Linked DNA regions of Homo sapiens: region 2 is linked to region 1. The links come from fine-mapping of genetic effects on gene expression. A gene starts in region 1. The other region holds a variant in brackets. All regions are shown on one strand. Distances are from middle to middle. Region 1 holds the start of LINC02604 (long intergenic non-protein coding RNA 2604). Region 2 has its middle 19 kb from the start of SBDS.

Evidence for each region.
Region 2: its variant is fine-mapped to the expression of LINC02604 in whole blood (INTERVAL, PIP 0.94).

The regions. Positions count from the first base shown.
Region 1 is chr7:66,900,478-66,909,541 of GRCh38, forward strand. It overlaps LINC02604 (long intergenic non-protein coding RNA 2604), which reads left to right and starts at 3,643. Exons shown (of 1, transcript NR_136637.1): 1 at 3,643-5,820.
Region 2 is chr7:66,971,963-66,981,026 of GRCh38, forward strand. It overlaps the pseudogene RN7SL43P. Among named protein-coding and RNA genes, the nearest start is that of SBDS, 19 kb to the right of the region's middle. The variant A/G (reference allele first, on the strand shown) is at 3,769.

The DNA of each region.
Region 1 (9,064 bases):
AGTAGCTGGAACTACAGTTGTGCACCACCACCATACCTGGCTAATTTTTTTTTTTTTTTGGTAGACACAGTGTCTCACTAAGTTGCCCAGCCTGGTCTCCAACTTTTGGCCTCAAGCAGTCCTTCTACCTAGGCTTCCCAAATTGCTGGGATTACAGGCATGAGCCACCATGCCTGGCCTCTGCTAGTTTTGTATTCTCTAGAATTGTCTGTAGTTAGTGCTAGTGTGTCACTCATTATGCTGATCCTCTGTTATAATTAATATTTTTTATATTAAAGTTACTTTTTTTTTTTTTGGTATTGGGTCTCAGTCTGTCACCAAGGCTGGAGTGCAGAGGCATGATCTCTGCTCACAGCAACCTCCACTTCGAAGGCTCAAGCAATTCTCCATCCTCAGCCTCCCAAGTAACTGGGATTACAGGTATGTGCCAGCATGCCTGGCTAATTTTTGTGCTTTTTTTGTGCTTTTTGTAGAGACAGGGTTTTGCCGTGTTTCCCAGGCTGGTCTCAACTCCTGAGCTCAAAGTAATCCACCCGCCTTGGCCTCCCAAAGCGCTGGGATTACAGGTTTGAGCCACCGTGCGCATTCCAGTTTAAACTTTTGAGCGGTTTATATGTTTTGATTGGACTCCTAGAAATACAGAATTGATGCTAGGAAGAGTACCAGGAGATAGACACATATACATGGGATTTCAGCCTTGGTTTGGTTATCCAAGGAGCAGTGCTGAGTTTCTTGCCAATGGGACATGGGATGCTGGTGATTTCCAGGAAGTGTCCTCACAATGAGTGAAGCTACCACTTACTGTTTATTGTGATGAAATGCTAGCCAAGGCATATGCCATGCGAGTTAACGGATGCTATGCTTCACCACTGTGGCAATAAAGATGACTCTGAAGAATGGCATGGGACGGAACCTTTCAAATGCACCTGAGCAGGGGTCTCCACCACAGGGCCACAGAGCTGGTGGTGAGCAGCAAAGTGAGGGGAAAATTCGTTTGTATTTATAGCCCCTCCCCATCGCTCGCATAACCACCTGAGCGTCATGTCCTGACAGGTCCAGCTACTGCCTTCCAGTGACCTCTTTAGGCTCATCTCATGCTTCACCGTGGCCTCGCCAAACCAAGCTGCTGCGTTTCAGCAGCCTCTGCAGCAGAGGCCGAGCTCTGCGTCCTGATCATCCTGATGGCCTCTTTAGGCCCAGCTCATTTCTCACAACGGCCACCTTAGGCCCAGCTTTTCCCTTTTGGTGGCCTCTCCAGGCCGAGAAATTCCTCAAGTCGGCCTCCCCCACCGCAGTTGCTGCCTCCCGGCCTCTTCTCCAGTCCCAGTCCTCTCTCGCAGCTGTGTCTACAGGCCCAGCTCCTGCCTCCAAAGAGCCTCTTTTGACTCGGCTCCTACCCAGCTCCTGGCAGCCTTTGTAGGCCTGAAATCTCTTCCAGTCCAGCACTCCATACCCAGTCTCCCCTCACAGCGGCCTTCCCAGGCCCAGCTTTTGCCTCACAGCGGCCTTCCCCGGCCATTTTCTAGCCGGCCTCGCGGTAGCCTCAACAAGCCCAGCTCCCGCCTCACACTGGCCTCTCTAGGCCCAGCTCAGGCGTCACAGTGGCGTCTCCAGGCCCAGCTCCCGCCCACCCCAACAGCGTCTCGCGGCTCAAGGCGTTCTCAAGATGGCCCTTCCAGGCCAAGTTCCTGCCTCCCGCCGATGGCCCGTGTGGGCCCAAAGCGTCCTGAAGTCGGCCTCGCCAGGCCCAGCTCCTGCCTGTCGTAGGCGCCTAGAGGCATGGCCTCTGCCTCCTCACAGTGGACCCCCCCAGACCCAGCTCTTGCTTCAGCATGGCCACCTCAGGCCAAGCTCCTGCCTTGCCTGTTGGCAGCCTCCACAGGCCCAGCTCTTGCCTCTCGCCATCCTCTCCAGGTCCAGAACTGTTTCCAGCCGGCCTCTCCAGGCCCAGCTCTCCCTCCCGGCTGTGGCTGCCGGCCCAGCTCCTGCCTCGCAACAGGCACGTTCGGCCCAACTCCTGCCCAGCTCATGGCAGCATTTGTAGGCCCCAGGCTCCTCTAAGTCAGGCCTTCCAGGCCCTGCCTTCAGCTCCCTGGCGGCCTGGAGAGGCCCAGCTCCTGCCTGACAGCGGCCTCTCCGGGCCCAGCTCTTGTCTCGCGTCGGCCTCCCCGGGACACATTTCCCCCTGCCTCGCGGCAGCCCCGAAAGACCCAGCTCCTGCCTCCTGATGGCCTCTTTAGGCTCATCTCATGCCTCACTGCAGCCTCCCCCAGGCCAGGCTCCTGCCTTTCGGCGGCTTCCGCAGGTCCGGCTCCTGCGTCCTGACGGCCTCTTTAGGCCCGGCTCGTCCCTCACAATGGCCTCTTTCAAAGGCCCAGCTTTTCCTTCGTGGCGGCCTCTCCAGGCCCAAATTGGCAAGCCTCCCCTGTCCTGGTGGCTGTCTCCCGGCCTACTCTCCAGGCCCAGCACACTCTCGCGGCTGTACCTCCAGGCCCAGCCCCTGCCTGCAGACAGCCGCTTTTGACTCGGTTCGTGCCCAGCTCCTGGCGGCCTTTGTAGGCCCGAAACCTCCTCCAGCACAGCTCTTCAGGCCCACCTGTGGCCTCGCAGCGGCCTTCCCAGGCCCAGCTCTTGCCTCACGGCGGCCTTCCCCGGCTGTATTCCTGCCAGCCTCTCGGCGGCCTCAAAAAGCCCGGCGCCTGCCTCACACTGGGGTCTCTAGGCCCAGCTCACGCCTGACGGTGGTCTCTCAAGGCCCAGCTCCCGCCCACCCCGACCGGCCCAAGGCTTTCTCAAGTTGGCCCATCCAGGGCCCAATTCCTGCCCTCCGCTGATGGCCTGTGCAGACCCAAAGTATCCTGAAGTCGGCCTCGCCGGGCCTAGCTCCTGCCTGTCATAGGCCCCTAGAAGCACGGCCTCTGCCTTCTAAAAGTGGAACCCCCCAGTCCCAGCTGTTGCCTCAGCGTGGCCACATCAGCCGAAGCTCCTGCCCTGCCTGTTGGCAGCCTCCATGGGCCAAGCTCTTGCCTCTCACCATCCTCTCCAGGCCCAGTACTGTTTCCAGCCGGCCTCTCCAGGCCCAACTCTCCCTCTCAGCTGTGCCTGCCGGCCCAGCTCCTACCTCGCAAAAGCCACGTTCGGCCCAGCTCCTGCCCAGCTCCTGGCAGCCTTTGTAAACCCCAGGATCCTCTAAGTCAGGCCTTTCAGGCCCTGCCTTTGGCTCCCCGGTGGCATGGAGAGGCCCAGCTCCTGCCTGACAGCGGCCTCTCCAGGCCCAGCTCTTGCCTCACGTTGGCCTCCCTGGGCCACGTTTCCGCCTGCCTCGCGGCAGCCCCGACAATCCCGGCTCCTGCCTCCCGATGGCATCTTTAGGCTCATCTCGTGCCTCACCACGGCCTGCACCAGGCCACACTCCTGCCTTTCGGTGGCCTCCGCGGGCCTGACTCCTGCGTCCCAATGGCCTCTTTAGGCCCGGCTCGTGCCTCGCCGCGGCCTCCTGAGGCCCACCTTTGCCCTTCTGGCAGCCTCTCCAGGCCCAGGACTTCCTCAAGTCGGCCTCTGCCAGCCCAGTGGCCGCCTCCCGGCCTCCTCTCCGGGCCCAGCTCCTTGCTCGTGGCTGCGCCCGCGGGCCCAGCTCCTGCCTCTGAACATCCTCCTGTGACTCGGCTCCTGCCCAGCTCCCAGCGGCCTCCGTAGACCCGAAGCCTCCTCCGGTCCAGCTCTCCAGGCCTGCCTCCTGCCTCGTGGCGGCCTTCCCCGGCCATGCTCGTGCCGGCTTCCCGGCAGCCTCCACGAGCCCGGCTCCTGCCTCACGCGGGCCCCTCCAGGCCCAGCTCGTGCCTCGCGGCGGCCTCTCCAGGCCCGGCTCCCGCCCAGCCCGACGGCGTCTCCCAGCCCAAGGCTCCCTTCCTCAACGTCGGCCCCTCTGGGCCCAGCTCCTGCCTCCCGCTGATGGCCTGTGCGGGCCCACCCGAGGCGGCCCGAAGTCGGCCTCGCCAGGCCCAGCTCCTGCCTGGCGTAGGCCCCTGGGGGCACGGCCTCTGCCCCACAGTGGCCCCTCCGGGCCCAGCTCGTGCCTCGGCTTGGCCGCCTCAGGCCCAGCTCCTGCCTGTGGGCGGCCTCTCTCCAGACCCGGCTCTCGCCTCCCGGCATCCTCTCCAGGCCCAGAGCTGTTTCCAGTTGCTAGACCATTTTTGTGCCTGCCTCGTTGCAGCATCTCCAAGCCCAGCTTTTGCTTTTCTGCAGTTTCTTGAGGCCGAACTCCATTTTTCGAATGGCTTATTTAGGCCCAGCTCTTGCGTTTGCATTGTCCCTTCAGGCCCAGAACTTTCTCACGTCATCGTCACCAGGCCTAGCTTCTGCATCTGGTCAGCCTTTTAAGGCCCAGCTTTTGCCTCATAAACTCAGCTCCTGTTTAATGGCGGCCTCCCAGGTCCCACCTTCTGCCTTCCTGTGTCCACTCCAGGCCCAGCTACTGCCTTGGTGCTCTTTTTAAGTCAATAATTTTTTCCAGTCGACCTCTCCAGGCCCAACTTGTACCTCTGAGTGTCCTCTAGGATCTCAGCTTCTGCCTAACAATGACCTCTTTAGACTCAGCTCATTTTCACTGCTACATCTTCAAGCCATTCTCCTGCCTCTTGGCAACCTCTAGTGGCCCAGCTTCTGCCTCACAGCAGCCTCTCCATGCATGCCTAGCTCCTGCCTCTTTAGGGAACTTACAGGCCTAAAACTTTCTTAATTTGGGCTTCTCAGGCCCAGCTCCTGCCTTCTGTTGGCCTCTACAGGCCTGGCATCATCCTTTCAACAGCCTCTTTAGGCCCGGCCTCTCCAGGACCAAAACATCCTTAAGTCAACCTCACCAGGCCCGGCTCCTGTCTCCTTGCGGCCTCCAGAGGCCGAGCTTTTGCCTGCCAATGGCCTCTCTAGCCCCAGCTTTTGCCTGCCAATGGCCTCTCTAGCCCCAGCTTCTGCCTTTCATCGGTCTCTCCAGGCTTAGCTCCTTTCTCTTCACGGCCTCTGCAGGCCTAAAACTTCCTCAATTTGGCATCTCCAGGCCCAGCTCCTGCCTCCAGGCCGCCTCTGCAGGCCTATCTCAAGCCTTACAACAGCCTCTTTACCCCCAGCTCCTTTCTCCGACTTGTCTCTCCAGGCCTAGAACTTCCTCATGTTTACCTCACCAGGCCCACCTCCTGCCTTCCAGTAGCGTCTACAAGTTTGGCTCCTGCCTCCCATGGATCTCTCCAGGCCCCAAACTTTCTCAAGTCAACCTCACCAGGCCCGGCTTCTCCCTTTCATCAGCCTTCCAAAGGCCAGCTTTTGCTTCATGTCTGCCTTCCGAGTCCCAGCTCCTGTTTTATGGCAGCCTCCTGAGGCCCAGCTCCTGCCTCCTAGTGGCCTCTTTTGGCCCAACTCTTTCCTCACCAGGGCCTTCCAGACCACGTTCCTGCCTTTTAGCAGCCACTACAGGCCCAGCTTTGCGTCCTTTCAAGAGTCCTGCCTCACAGTGGCCTCCCAAGGGCAACTTTCTGCCTCATGTCAGCCTCTTGTGCCCTGGTCCTGCTTCCTGGTAGACTCTGCAGGCCCTGCTCCTGCCTTACGTTGCCCCTTTTATAAAGATCCAGTTCCTGCCTCCTGGCTGCCTCTATGAGCCCAAATCCTGCCTAACAACAACCTGTTTTTGCCCAGCTCCTGCTTCCTGGCAGCCTCCTTAGGCCAAAAATTTCCTTCAGTTGACCTCTCCAGGCCCAGCTCCTGCCTCTCAGCACCCTCTTTAGGCCCAGCTCCTGCCTTAATAAATTTGAATAAATTATTGTTATGTGATTATTATGTGAAACATTTTTTCTTCAAAAGGTAATGAAAATTGAGGTAAAGTATAAAAGTCTAGCATATAAATTCCTCTATTGTCACCCTTCGTATTAGTCACAGTTCTCTAAAGGAGCAGAACTGTTAGGATAGATGTATATATATAAGGGAGTTTCTTAAGGGGTATTAACTCACAGGATCACAAGGTTCCACAATAGGCTGTCTGCAAGCTGAGGAGCAAGGAAGCCATTCTGAGTCCCAAACCTGAAGAACTTGGAGTCCGATGTTCTAGGGCAGGAACCATCCAGCATGGGAGAAAGATGTAGGCTCGGAGGCTAAGCCAGTCTCACCTCTTTATGTTCCTCTGCCTCATTTTTATTTTTGCCACACTGGCAGCTGATTAGATTGTGCCCACCTAGTTTAAGGGCGGGTCTGCCTTTCCCAGCCCCCTGACTCAAATGTTAATCTCCTTTGGCAACACCCTCACATACACACCCAGGAACAATACTTTGCATCCTTCAGTCCAATAGAGTTGACAGTCAATATTAACCATCACAAGTTCACCCCTTGTCAACTTTAACCCATACACATCTTCTGAAATTATACATAATCTTCAAATAAAGATAATAATAAGGTCATAATTGTGCCTAAGATAATAATAAAAGTATTCTTCATACAACTGGAAATGCACCAATCCTGAACCCAAATGCCCTTATATAAAACTAACACTTAGATGCTTATATGAAGTCAATATAAGTTATTCACACAATAAAGGAAAAAGGAAATGAAATATTCTTAGTACAAGCTTATATATGCACAAACATGTTTTTAACAAAAGGAGGAAATACTCATGACAATTACAGTCCTCGTTTCTGTAGCTGGTCACATGGTCATAGCTGGTATTGATGACTGCCTTTTTCTATTACCCATTCTGTATTCTTTTTGCCTTCAGAAAGCATCTCAGCAGGTTTTTTCCTGGAGTGACCCAAGCCTTCATTCCTGAAGGGTCTGGGCCATTTGTAGTCCTGCCTGGGTTGGGCTGTTATAGTTTCCCATTGACCTTAATCACAGGGCATCTCCTGTATTCCATGCATATTCTTCCTTACCTCCATTGTGGAGTAGTAGACTGATTTCATCTTGATAGTCTGGGTCAATCATCCCAGAAGGTTGTAACTCCCTTCTTAGCCTGTTGATTTAAAAGTGGCAGGACCCCAAAGTGTCCAGGTGGCAATCGTAACTTCCAGTTTAATGGAATCGTTGTGTCTCCTGGTGGCAGCTTTCTTCCCTCTGGATCTAAGACCTCTAGACCAGCAGAATGTAATGTTGTGGGAACAGGTAGCCAAAATTTTCTAGTGGATCACTAGGGGTGATGGTGAGTGATGCCACTTCCACTTCCACCCCTTGATTCCTGGACCTGTGAATCCTGGCTATGGGATAAACAATGCCATATATTGGATGCTGATTCAGAGCAGACATGGCCTTCTGGAGAAATTTGCCCCAGCCCCGCAGAGTATTATCACCTAGTTGGCATTGTAATTGTGACTTCAAAAGGCCATTCCACCATTCTATCAATCCAGCTGCTTCGGGATGGTGGGGAACATGGTGGGATCAGTGAATTCCAAGAGCATGAGCCCACTGTCACACTAGCTGTAAAGTGAGTGCCTTGGTCAGAGGCAATGCTGTGTGGAATACCATGACGGTGGATAAGGCATTCCGTGAATCCACAGATGGTAGTCTTAGCAGAAGCATTGCGTGTAGGATAGGCAAACTCATATCTGGAGTGTCCATTCCAGGGAGGAGAAACCTCTGCCCTTTCCATGATGGAAGAAGTCCAATATAATCAATCTGCCACCATGTAGCTGTGTGATCACCCAAGGAATGATGCCATATCAAGGGCTCAGTGTTGGGCACTGCTGCTGGAAAATGGGGCACTCAGCAGTGGCTGTAGCCAGGTCTGCCTTGGTGAGTGAAAGTCCATGTTGCTGAGAAAGTCTATCCCTGCCACCATGGCCACTTTGTTTATGAGCCCATTGGGCGATGGCAGTGGTGACTGGGGAAAAGGCTGAGTGGTGTCTACAGAATGAGGCACCCTGTCCACTTGATTATTAAAATCCTCCTCCGCTGAGGTCACCCTTTGGTGAGCACTCACATGAGATACAAATATCTTGACTGTTTCTGACCACTCAGAGAGGTCCATCCACATACTTCCCCAAATTTCTTTGTCACCAGTTTTCCAATCATGCTTCTTCCAAGTCCCTGGCCATAGAGCCAAACCATTGGCTACAGCCCATGAGTCAGTATATAATCGCACACCTGGCCATTTCCTTCCATGCAAAGTGCACAACCAGGTGCACTGCTTGAAGTTCTGTCCACTGGAAAGATTTTTCTTCACTGCTGTCCATAAGGGATGTCCCAGAAAGGGGCTGTAGTGCTGCAGCTGTCCATTTTTGGGTGGTGCCTGCATATCGTGCAGAACCACCTGTGAACCAGCCCCTAGTCTTCTCTTCCTCTGTCAACTGATCATAGGGAACTCCCCATGAGGCCATCATTTCAGGCTGGGGAAGAGAAGATAGGGTGGCAGGAGTGGAGACCACGAGCATTTGAGCCACTTCCTCATGTAACTTACTTGTGCCTTCAGGACCAGCTGGAGCCCGATCACATATATACCACCTCCATCTGATGATGGAATGCTGCTGTGCACGACCCACTTTATGGCTAGGTGGGTCAGAAAACACCAGTTCATGACAGGTAGTTCAGGTCTCATGGTGACTTGATGACCCATAGTCAAATGTTCAGTTTCCACCAAAGCCCAGTAATAAGTGAAGAGCTGTCTCTCAAAAGGAGAGTAGTTATATGCAGAAGATGGCAGGGCCTTGCTCCAAAATCCTAGAGGCCTATGGGGGTCTGCCAGAGGCTCCAAACACCATCCCTATCTGCCACTGACACCTCAAGCACCACTGGGTCCGCTGGGTCATATGGCCCAAGTGGCAGAGCAGCTTGCACAGTGGACTGGACCTGTTGCAGAGCCTTCTCCTGTTCTGGACCCCACTTCTGGTACCAAAATGTGTATTAGGGTCCAGGGTCCACTAAAGGGACAGAACTAATAGAATATATATATATATATATGAATTTATTAAGGGGTATTAACTCAATCACAAGGTCCCATCACAGGCCATCTGCAAGCTGAGGAGCAAGGAAGCCAGTTTGAGTTCCAAAGCTGAAGAACTTGGAGTCCGATGTTTGAAGGCAGGAACCATCCAGC
Region 2 (9,064 bases), 71 kb after region 1:
AATTTTTTGTATTTTTAGTAGAGATGGGGTTTCACCATGTTAGCCAGGATGGTCTCCATGTCCTGACCTCGTGATCTGCCCGCCTCGGCCTCCCAAAGTGCTGGGATTACAGGCGTGAGCCACTGCGCCCGGCCTGCAGATTTTTTCTTTACTTCATTTATTTATTTACTTATTTTAAGAGACAGGGTCTCACTCTATTACCCAGGCTGGTCTTGAACTCCTGGGCTCAACAGATCTTCCTGCCTTGGCCTCCCAGTGGGTGAGCCGGTGGACCTGGCCATCTTCAAAAATTGAAATCACTGAAAGGCACCTGGTCATCATTTTCTTGTCAAACTTTTCAATCAGAGCAAGTAATCTGTGGTTGCCCAGCCTTCAGATTAGTAGACTCGAGTGGAGACCAGGCCATATTCCAGGGAGCCACCTCAGGCCTTTTGACCTGGAACGCACAGGTGATTACCACAGCCCAGGGTGATAAAGAACTCATTCCTATGACTTGAAAGGGTGATTTTAATGTGTGCTGGACATTGCCCTAAGTATTTACGCACATTATCTCACTTAGCTCTTTACCAGTGAATGAGGTACCTATTAGCAGCCTCCTTCCACAAATACATTGAAGTTGAGTGAGATTAGATAAATTGCTCACCTGTCTTAGCAAAGGCTTTCTGGTATGAGTTACAGAAACGAACTTCAGCTGAATCTTTTGCAAAGAAAAAGAATATGGGACCCGGGGCGTGGCTCACGCCTATAATCCCAGCACTTTGGAAGGCAAAGGCAGGCGGGTCACCTGAGGTCAGGAGTTTGAGATCAACCAGGCCAACATGGTGAAATCCTGTCTCTACTAAAAATACAAAAATTAGCCAGGCGTGGTGATGGGCACCTGTAGTCCCAGCTACTCAGGAAGCTGAGGCAGGAGAATTGCTTGAACCCGGTAGGTGGAGGTTGCAGTGAGCTGAGATCACGCCATTGCACTCCAGCCTGGGCGACAGAGCGAGACTCCGTCTCAACATAAATTAATAACAAATAAGAAAAAGAATACAGGTGGGCAGCCAAAGTTACTTGTAGGCTCTCAGGATATCTCGCTGAATCCAGGGGCTGATTTGCTACGAGACAGAGGAAGGTGCTGAACCTGGCTCAGGAGACAGCTGGAAACTCAGGTAACAGACCCCAGAGTCCTCTTTTTCTCCACCTGCAGAATGGGTTCTTTCTCTTGGTATCTGTATCCTTGTAGAGAAGCATGGCTGCCCCACAACTCCTGGAATCACAGAAGACAGGTTCAGCCATCTGCAAAAATCCATGATTATTGTTCTGTCCATATTCTAAACTCCTTAGAGAGACAATCGTTATCTTCTTAGCAAAGGTTATTCCTTTTATGTGGTTGCATAAGAGTCTGTCTGTCTCGCTCTCTCTTTCTTCCCCCTTGTGTTGAGAGACAGAGATTCTAGAGAAGAAATGGAAGAATCGTGGGCTGGGCAGATATCCTAAAATGTGCCTGCTGCATACCAACTTTACACAACTAGTAAGGTTTAAATTCCTGTCTTTCCAACTCTGTTTCAAATAGACTCTGGACTGGTCAGCCGCAGTGGCTCACACCTGCAATCCCAGCACTTTGGGAGGCTGAGGCGGGCAGATCACTTGAGGCCAGGAGTTCGAGACCAGCCTGTGCAACATGGCGAAACGCGGTCTCTACTAAACACACAAAAATTAGCCGGGCGTGGTGGCGGGCGCCTGTAATCCCAGCTACTCAGGAGGCTAAGGCGGGAGAATCACTTGAACCTGGGAGGCAGAGGTTGCAGTGAGCAGAGGTCCCATCACTACATTCCAGCCTGGGCGACAGAGCAAGACTACTCCAGCCTGGGCAATAGGGCAAGACTCCGTCTCAAAAAAAAAAAAAAAAAAAAAAAAACACTAAACAGGCCAAGCGAGGTGGCTCCCACCTGTAATCCCAGCACTTTGGGAGGCTGAAGGGGGCAGGTCACCTGAGGTCAGGAGTTTGAGACCAGCCTGACTAAAATGGAGAAACCCCGTCTCTACTGAAAATAGAAAATTAGCCAGGCATTGTGGTGCATGCCTGTAATCCCAGCTACTCGGGAGGCTGAGGCAGGAGGATCATTTGAACCCGGGAGGCGGAGGTTGTGGTGAGCCGAGATCGCGCCATTGCACTCTAGCCTGGGCAACAAGAGTGAAACTCTGTCTCAAAAACAAAGCAACAAACAAATTAAGGAACAAACACCTCTGGCTGGGCTATTCCCACTTCCATAGTACTTTAAAACAAATCTGATACTTTTTTTTTCTTCCCGAGAGGGAATCTCGCTCTGTCGCCCAGGCTGGAGGGCAGTGGGGCAATCTCGGCTCACTGCAAGCTCTGCCTCCCAGGTTCACGCCATGCTCCTGCCTCAGCCTCCCGAGTAGCTGGGACTACAGGTGCCCACGACCACGCCCGGCTAATTTTTTGTATTTTTGGTAGAGACGTGGTTTCACCGTGTTAGCCAGGATGGTCTTGATCTCCTGACCTTGTGATCCACCCACCTCGGCCTCCCAAAGTGCTGGGATTACAGGCGTGAGCCACCGCGCCTGGCCTGATACTTAAGTCTCTGTCAGCCTCTCAAGAGGGCCATCCCATCTATAGCCATATCCCTCTGAAACATCCCATCTCACCAAAAGGACCACCAGGGTTTGAGAAAATCTGCGGCAGATCTTGCTGGGCTGAAGTCTTACGTACGTTTGATCTCTCGGCATTTCTGTTGTGTTCCTCCCTACGCCCCCAGCTCTGAACTGTCTAAATGCCTGTTCTTACCTTAAAATATTGATCTACAAACTAGAATAGTGGTTCTGAAACTTTAGCGTGCATCAGAGTCACTTGGAGAGTTTACTGACTTATAGATTTACAGTTTATTGAGATTAAAAATTGCTGGGCCCCGTCTCTGATTGATTAGGTTTGGAATGAGGTTTAAGATTTTTCTTTTTTGAGACGGAGTCCCGCTCTGTCACCCAGGCTGGAGTGCAATGGTGCGATCTCGGCTCACTGCAACCCCCGCCTCCCAGGTTCAACCAATTCTCCTGCCTCAGCCTCATGAGTGGCTGTGATTGCTGGCGTGAGCCACCACACCCGGCTAATTTTTGTATTTATAGTAGAGATGGGGTTTCGCCATTTTGGCCAGGCTGGTCTCGAATTCCTGACCTCAGGTTATCTGCCTGCCTCGGCCTCCCAAAGTGCTGGGAATCCAGGCGTGAGCCAGCGCGCCCGGCCAAGATTTTGCATTTGTAACAAGTTCTTGTTACCTACGCAGTGGATGAGTTCAGTCGCTTGGTGGATTACAGACAGCTCCCAAAACAGTGCCACTTGGAGAGTGGGGGCTGGGTTGGCTTTTATAGGCCTAGGCTAATGAGTCATGATATGATTGGATCTTGTAGTCAGGTGATGCCAGGAGGTGTGATCTGACTGGATGCTGCAATGGGGTGATGCCAGGGCTCAATCTGATTGGATCCTGGATCCTGGTGGGCTGTGTCTGTTTCTTAATTTAGTCCCCATGCCCCGATCCTAGCACTTAGGATCCCCCTGTGGGTGCAGGCTTGGTTCGTCTGGACGTGCTCAGGTTACATAATCTGAGGGTTCCAGGCAACTGATAAACTAACGACTTTGTTACATAAAAGTTGAAGCAGGCCGGGCGCGGTGGCTCATGCCTGTAATCCCAGCACTTTGGGAGGCCGAGACGGGCGGATCACGAGGTCAGGAGATCGAGACCATCCTGGCTAACACGGTGAAACCCC[A/G]TCTCTACTAAAAATACAAAAAATTAGCCGGCCTGGTGGCACACACTTGTAGACCCAGCTACTCAGAAGGCTGAGGCAGGAGAATGGCGTGAACCCAGGAGGCGGAGCTTGCAGTGAGCCGAGATTGAGCCACTGCACTCCAGCCTGGGCAACAGAGCGAGACTCTGTCTCAAAAAAAAAAAAAAAAAAAAGTTGAACCAGATTGGTCTAGTGCAGCTACAGGCGCGGTGGCTCACGCCTGTAATCCCAGGACTTTGGGAGGCTGAGGCAGGCGATCCTAATGGTGTATCCCCACTTTGAGAACTACTTAACTAGAAGAAGCCAAAGTCACGAATACATCCCCTAATGCAAAGCCTCACAACTAGCAGGCGATCAATACATGCTTATTTTATAAACTTCCTAATGCAGAGAGTCCAATTTTTCTCTATTTCTTCACGTCGATTTAATTACTTAGATTGGAGTCTTTGTCAGCCGGGCGCAGTGGCTCACTCCTGTAATCCCAGCACATTGGGAGGCTGAGGCGGGGGGATCACCTGAGGTCAGGAGTTCGAGACCAGCCTGACCAACATGGAGAAACCCCATCTCTATTAAAAATACAAAATTTGCCGGGCGTGGTGGTATATGCCTGTAATCCCAGCTACTTGGGAGGCCGAGGCAGGAGAATCGCTTGAACCTGGGAGGCGGAGGTTGCGGTAAGCTGAGATGGCGCCATTGCACTCCAGCCTGGGCAACAAGAGCGAAACACCGTCTCAAAAAAAAAAAAAAAAAGATTGGAGTCTTTGTCCAAAACATGCTGTTTCAGAATTAAGCGGTGGGGGGGGGGGGGGGGAATAATTGTAATAAAAAGTTCTGTTTGCCTTTATTATTTATGCATTTATTTATTTTCAGGACGGAGTCTCTCTCTGTCACCCATGCTGGAGTGCAGTGGCCTGATCCTGGCTCACTGCAACCTTCGCCTCCAGGGTTCAAACGATTCTTCTGCCTCAGCCTCCTGAGTAGCTGGGATTACATGATGTCTGGAATCTATGAATAACATTGGTTTCTAAGTTATGAGTTGAGTTTTAACTACTGGGTTTAGACCAGGCAGGCCCAGGCGTGGTTTCGGGCATGGCGCTGGGCTGCCTGTCTTTGGTTTTACTTCCTTGTTGTTTTTTCTTAAAACAGGTACTGAGTATAAAACAATATAAAACAATATGAGAGGATCTCTCTCTTCCCTCATCACTGTGTTAGCCAGGCTGGTCTCGAACTCCTGACCTCAGGTGATCCATCCACCCTTGGCCTCCCAAAGTGCTGGAATTACAGGCGTGAGCCACTGCACCTGGCCCTATGTTTGCCTTTATAAATAAGATTTATTTTAGCTCTTCTTTCTTTCTAATGCAAAGTACTTTAACAATTTTAAAAAATTAAGTGTTTCAATCGGGTGGGTATGGTGGCTCATGCCTGTAATCCCAGCACTTCTGGAGGCTGAGTCAGGAGGATCGCTCGAGCCCAGGGGGTTGAGACTAACCTGGGAAACATTGTGAGACCCCATCTTTATTTTTAAAAATGATTTCAATACAGAAAATGCCTGTTATTGCCATAAAGAGCTATCTTGATAGCTGGACCATTGCACTTCAGGAGTAGCTGTTGTATGGCAGCCGTGGAAATTGTGCAGTGCTCAGCCTGTGCAACCACATGTGGCAGCCTGGTGGAGAGTTTCTCTGCGATAAATAGTAATGAAATATTTCTCTCCCTCCCCACTTTTCAAAGCTTCTTTTTTTTTTTTTTTTTCTGAGACAGTTTCACTCTTGTGGCCCAGGCTGGAGTGCAATGGCGTGATCTCAGCTCACCGCAACCTCCGTCTCACGGGTTCAAGCAATTCTCCTGCCTCAGCCTCCCGAGTAGCTGGAATTACAGGCATGCGCCACCATGCCCAGCTAATTTTGTATTTTTGGTAGAGACAGGGTTTCTCCATGTTGGTCAGGCTGGTCTCGAACTCCTGACCTCAAGTGATCCGCCTGCCTTGGCCTCCCAACTTGCTGGGATTACAGGCCTGAGCCACCGCCTGGCCTCAAAGCTTCTTTTGTTAAAGGTTTGGGCTATTTTTTAGTAACTTTTAGTCTCATTGCATTTTTTCCCAGCTTCCTTTCCTTTTTTTTTTTTTTTAATTGAGACCGAGTCTTGCTTTGTTACCGAGGTTGGAGTGCAGTGATAAAATCTTGGCTCACGCCAACCTCCACCTCTCAGGTTCAAGCGATTCTCCTGCCTCAGCCTCCCAAGTAGCTGGGATTACAGGTGCCCACCACCACGCCCGGCTAATTTTTGTATTTTTAGTAGAGATGGCATTTCACCATGTTGGCAAGGCTGGTCTCGAACTCCTCACCTCAAGTGATATGCCTGCCTCAGCCTCCCAAGTGCTGGGATTATAGGCATGAGCCACCGCACCCAGCGCTTTCCTTTTCTCTTGATGTGACTTGCTAAACCACTTGACAAAGAAGCTGAGGTTATTAGGCTTTTCTTTTCACAAATAAGGTGAATGAATCATAAGCCCATGTCTGCTGCTTTATTTACTGAATTAGTGTTCTAAAAATAAAACAGCACTCTTTAAGTCCAACATTTATACCTAAATTCTGGGCCCTGAAATGTAATTGTGCACCTGGGCCCGTATTTAACTTCAAATTCTCCATCTGTGTAAGATGCATAATACCAGGTCTACTATGCAGACAGTTACGGTAAGTCAGACGATGTCTGAAAAACACTTGAGACACACAGTTGCCATGTTCTGTGTACTGACGGAAAGTATGAAATTAGCAAAACATGCAGGGAATATTCAGCTGTATTCATTACTGTGTTTGGGCAAAATACGGTAAAGAAATTGCTCAGCATAGTTTCTCTGAAGATGTTTGGGTATACTTAGTATGCTTTGCAAACCTTGGAATTGGATTTAATTTTTACTTAGAGAATTAAGCATCTAATTATTGCCACAAAAAATAGTAGATTAAGGCCATGCACAGTGGCTCACGCCTGTAATCCTAGCACTTTGGGAGGCTGAGGCAGGTGGATCACCTGGGTTCAAGGGTTCGAGACCAGCGTGGCCACTGTGATGAAACCCCGTCTCTAATAAAAAAAAAAAATTTAGCTGGGCATGGTAGGGGGCGCCTGTAATCCCAGCTACTTGGGAAGCTGAGGCAGGAGAATCACTTGAACCCAGGAGGCGGAGATTGCAGTGAGGAGAGATTGCCCCACTGCACTCCAGCCTGGGCAACAGAGCGAGACTCTGTCTCAAACAAACAAACAAAATAGTAGATTAAGTTTGGGCAACATAGGAAGACCCTGTCCCTACAAAAAGTTAAAATAATTAGCTAGGCGTGGTGGCACAAGCCTGTAGTTCCAGCAACTCTGGAGGCTGAGGCAGGAGGATTGATTGAACCTAAGAGTTCTAGGCTGCAGAGAGCTATGATTGCACCACTGCACTCTGTTACAGATGTATACATGTACTGAGTCATGATGGAAAATGGATTGATTTAGAAATGTTTGGGTATGATGGCTTGCTCATTGCCCTTCTATGGTTCACTATAGCTTAGGCTATTTGGAGAAAAGCAAAACATTTGAAAGCTGAAACATTCAAAACATTCAAAGATTCAAAGCTGAAATCTGTGATCCATGCCATGAAACTCAAGGAAAAAAAAATGCGGCAGTTATTTTAGTGGCACCAAGTCCTGGGGCTCCTGGATCCCAGCCTAGGAGGAGAGGGACGTGAAGAAAAGTAAGGGCCAGCACATTTTGACTGTTCTGGGGAAAAGGAACTGCAGCAAGAAGTAACTGCTCTGCTCAAAACATTCCTATTCTCTCTCTCTCTCGTCTCACTCTGTCACTCAGGCTGGAGTGCAGTGGTGCGATCTCGGCTCACTGCAACCTGTGCCTCCTGGGTTCATGTGATTCTCCTGCCTCAGTCTCCCTAGTAGTTGGGATTACAGGTACCTACCACCACTCCCAGCTAATTTTTTGTATTTTTAGTAGAGAAGGGATTTCACCATTTTGGCCAGGCTGGCCTCGAACTCCTGACCTTGGGTGATCCGCCTGCCTCAGCCTTCCAAAATGCTGGGATTATAGGCATGAGCCAACGCGCCTGGCCAGCCTCTCTTTATTGGGAGCTTTCCATCCACTCTCCATCTCTTCTGCCTTTTCTTTTTAAATCTCCTCATCACTTCCTTGCAAACTCTCCATGCCTCCTAGTGCCTGAGGTAGGTATAAGACAGCTTGAAACCAGTAATCTACAATTCTTTCCTGGGCTTTCCGTTCTCACAACAGAGTCTGTGTCACCTGCTAAGGTACTGAAACTGACTCAGTTCTTTCATAGAGCAGATGTTTATGGTTTCTTTTGAATAAACATAGAAATTGACACTTCTAGCCTGGTGTGGTGGAGTGTGCTGGTATTCCCAGCTACTTGGGAGGCTGAGGCGGGAGGATCCTTTGAGCCCAGGAGTTCTGGGCTGTAGTGCGCTATGCCAATCAGGTGTCTGCACTAAGTTTAGCATCAACTTCCTGGGAGTGGGGGACCACCAGGTTGCTTAAGGAGGGGTTAACCAGTTCAGGTCGGAGACTGAGCAGGTCAAAACTCCTGTGCTGATGAGTAGTGGCATCACGCCTGTGAATAGCCACTGCACTTCAGCCTGGGCAACATAGTGAGACCCTGTCTCAAAACAAAACAAAAGCAAAAGCAAAAAGAGAAACAAATTGACCTTTCCAGTCTTGAAATTTGAGAAAGTGACATTTGCCTTATCTGAGTTCCTTTCTCAGGAAATCAACCATCAAGCCTCCCAGATGGTATCAAGGAACTGAAACTTACCAGATCACTGCATTTGGACAATGAGATGCAGAACCCCTCATCTGTCATAATGGCCTAACAGACCACCTGCTGCCTGTTGATCAACTCCTCTTCCTTACCCCTCCCTAATTCCTGTTTTACTGCATGTAGTTACATTTCTTCCTTCCTATATAAACCTCTAATTTTAGTTGGTCAGGGAGACAAATTTGAAACTGATCTCCCATCTCCTTGGCTGGAGCACCCAATTAAAGCCTTCTTCCCTGGCACTACTGATTGGCTTTCTGTGCAGCAAGCGGCAGGACCTACACCAAACCCCTGGCATTTTGGCAACAGCACTGGTCATGCTAGGGAAAAAGTTCAAGATCTCAACTTCCAAGACCCAGGGAAGCCTCTCACAATTTCTAAAGGGCAGGGCAGAAGAGATCTTTGAAAGTGAATCTGAATGAGAATAAAAGTGCAGTTTCACTTTAAATTTTCCAAAAAGCTTAT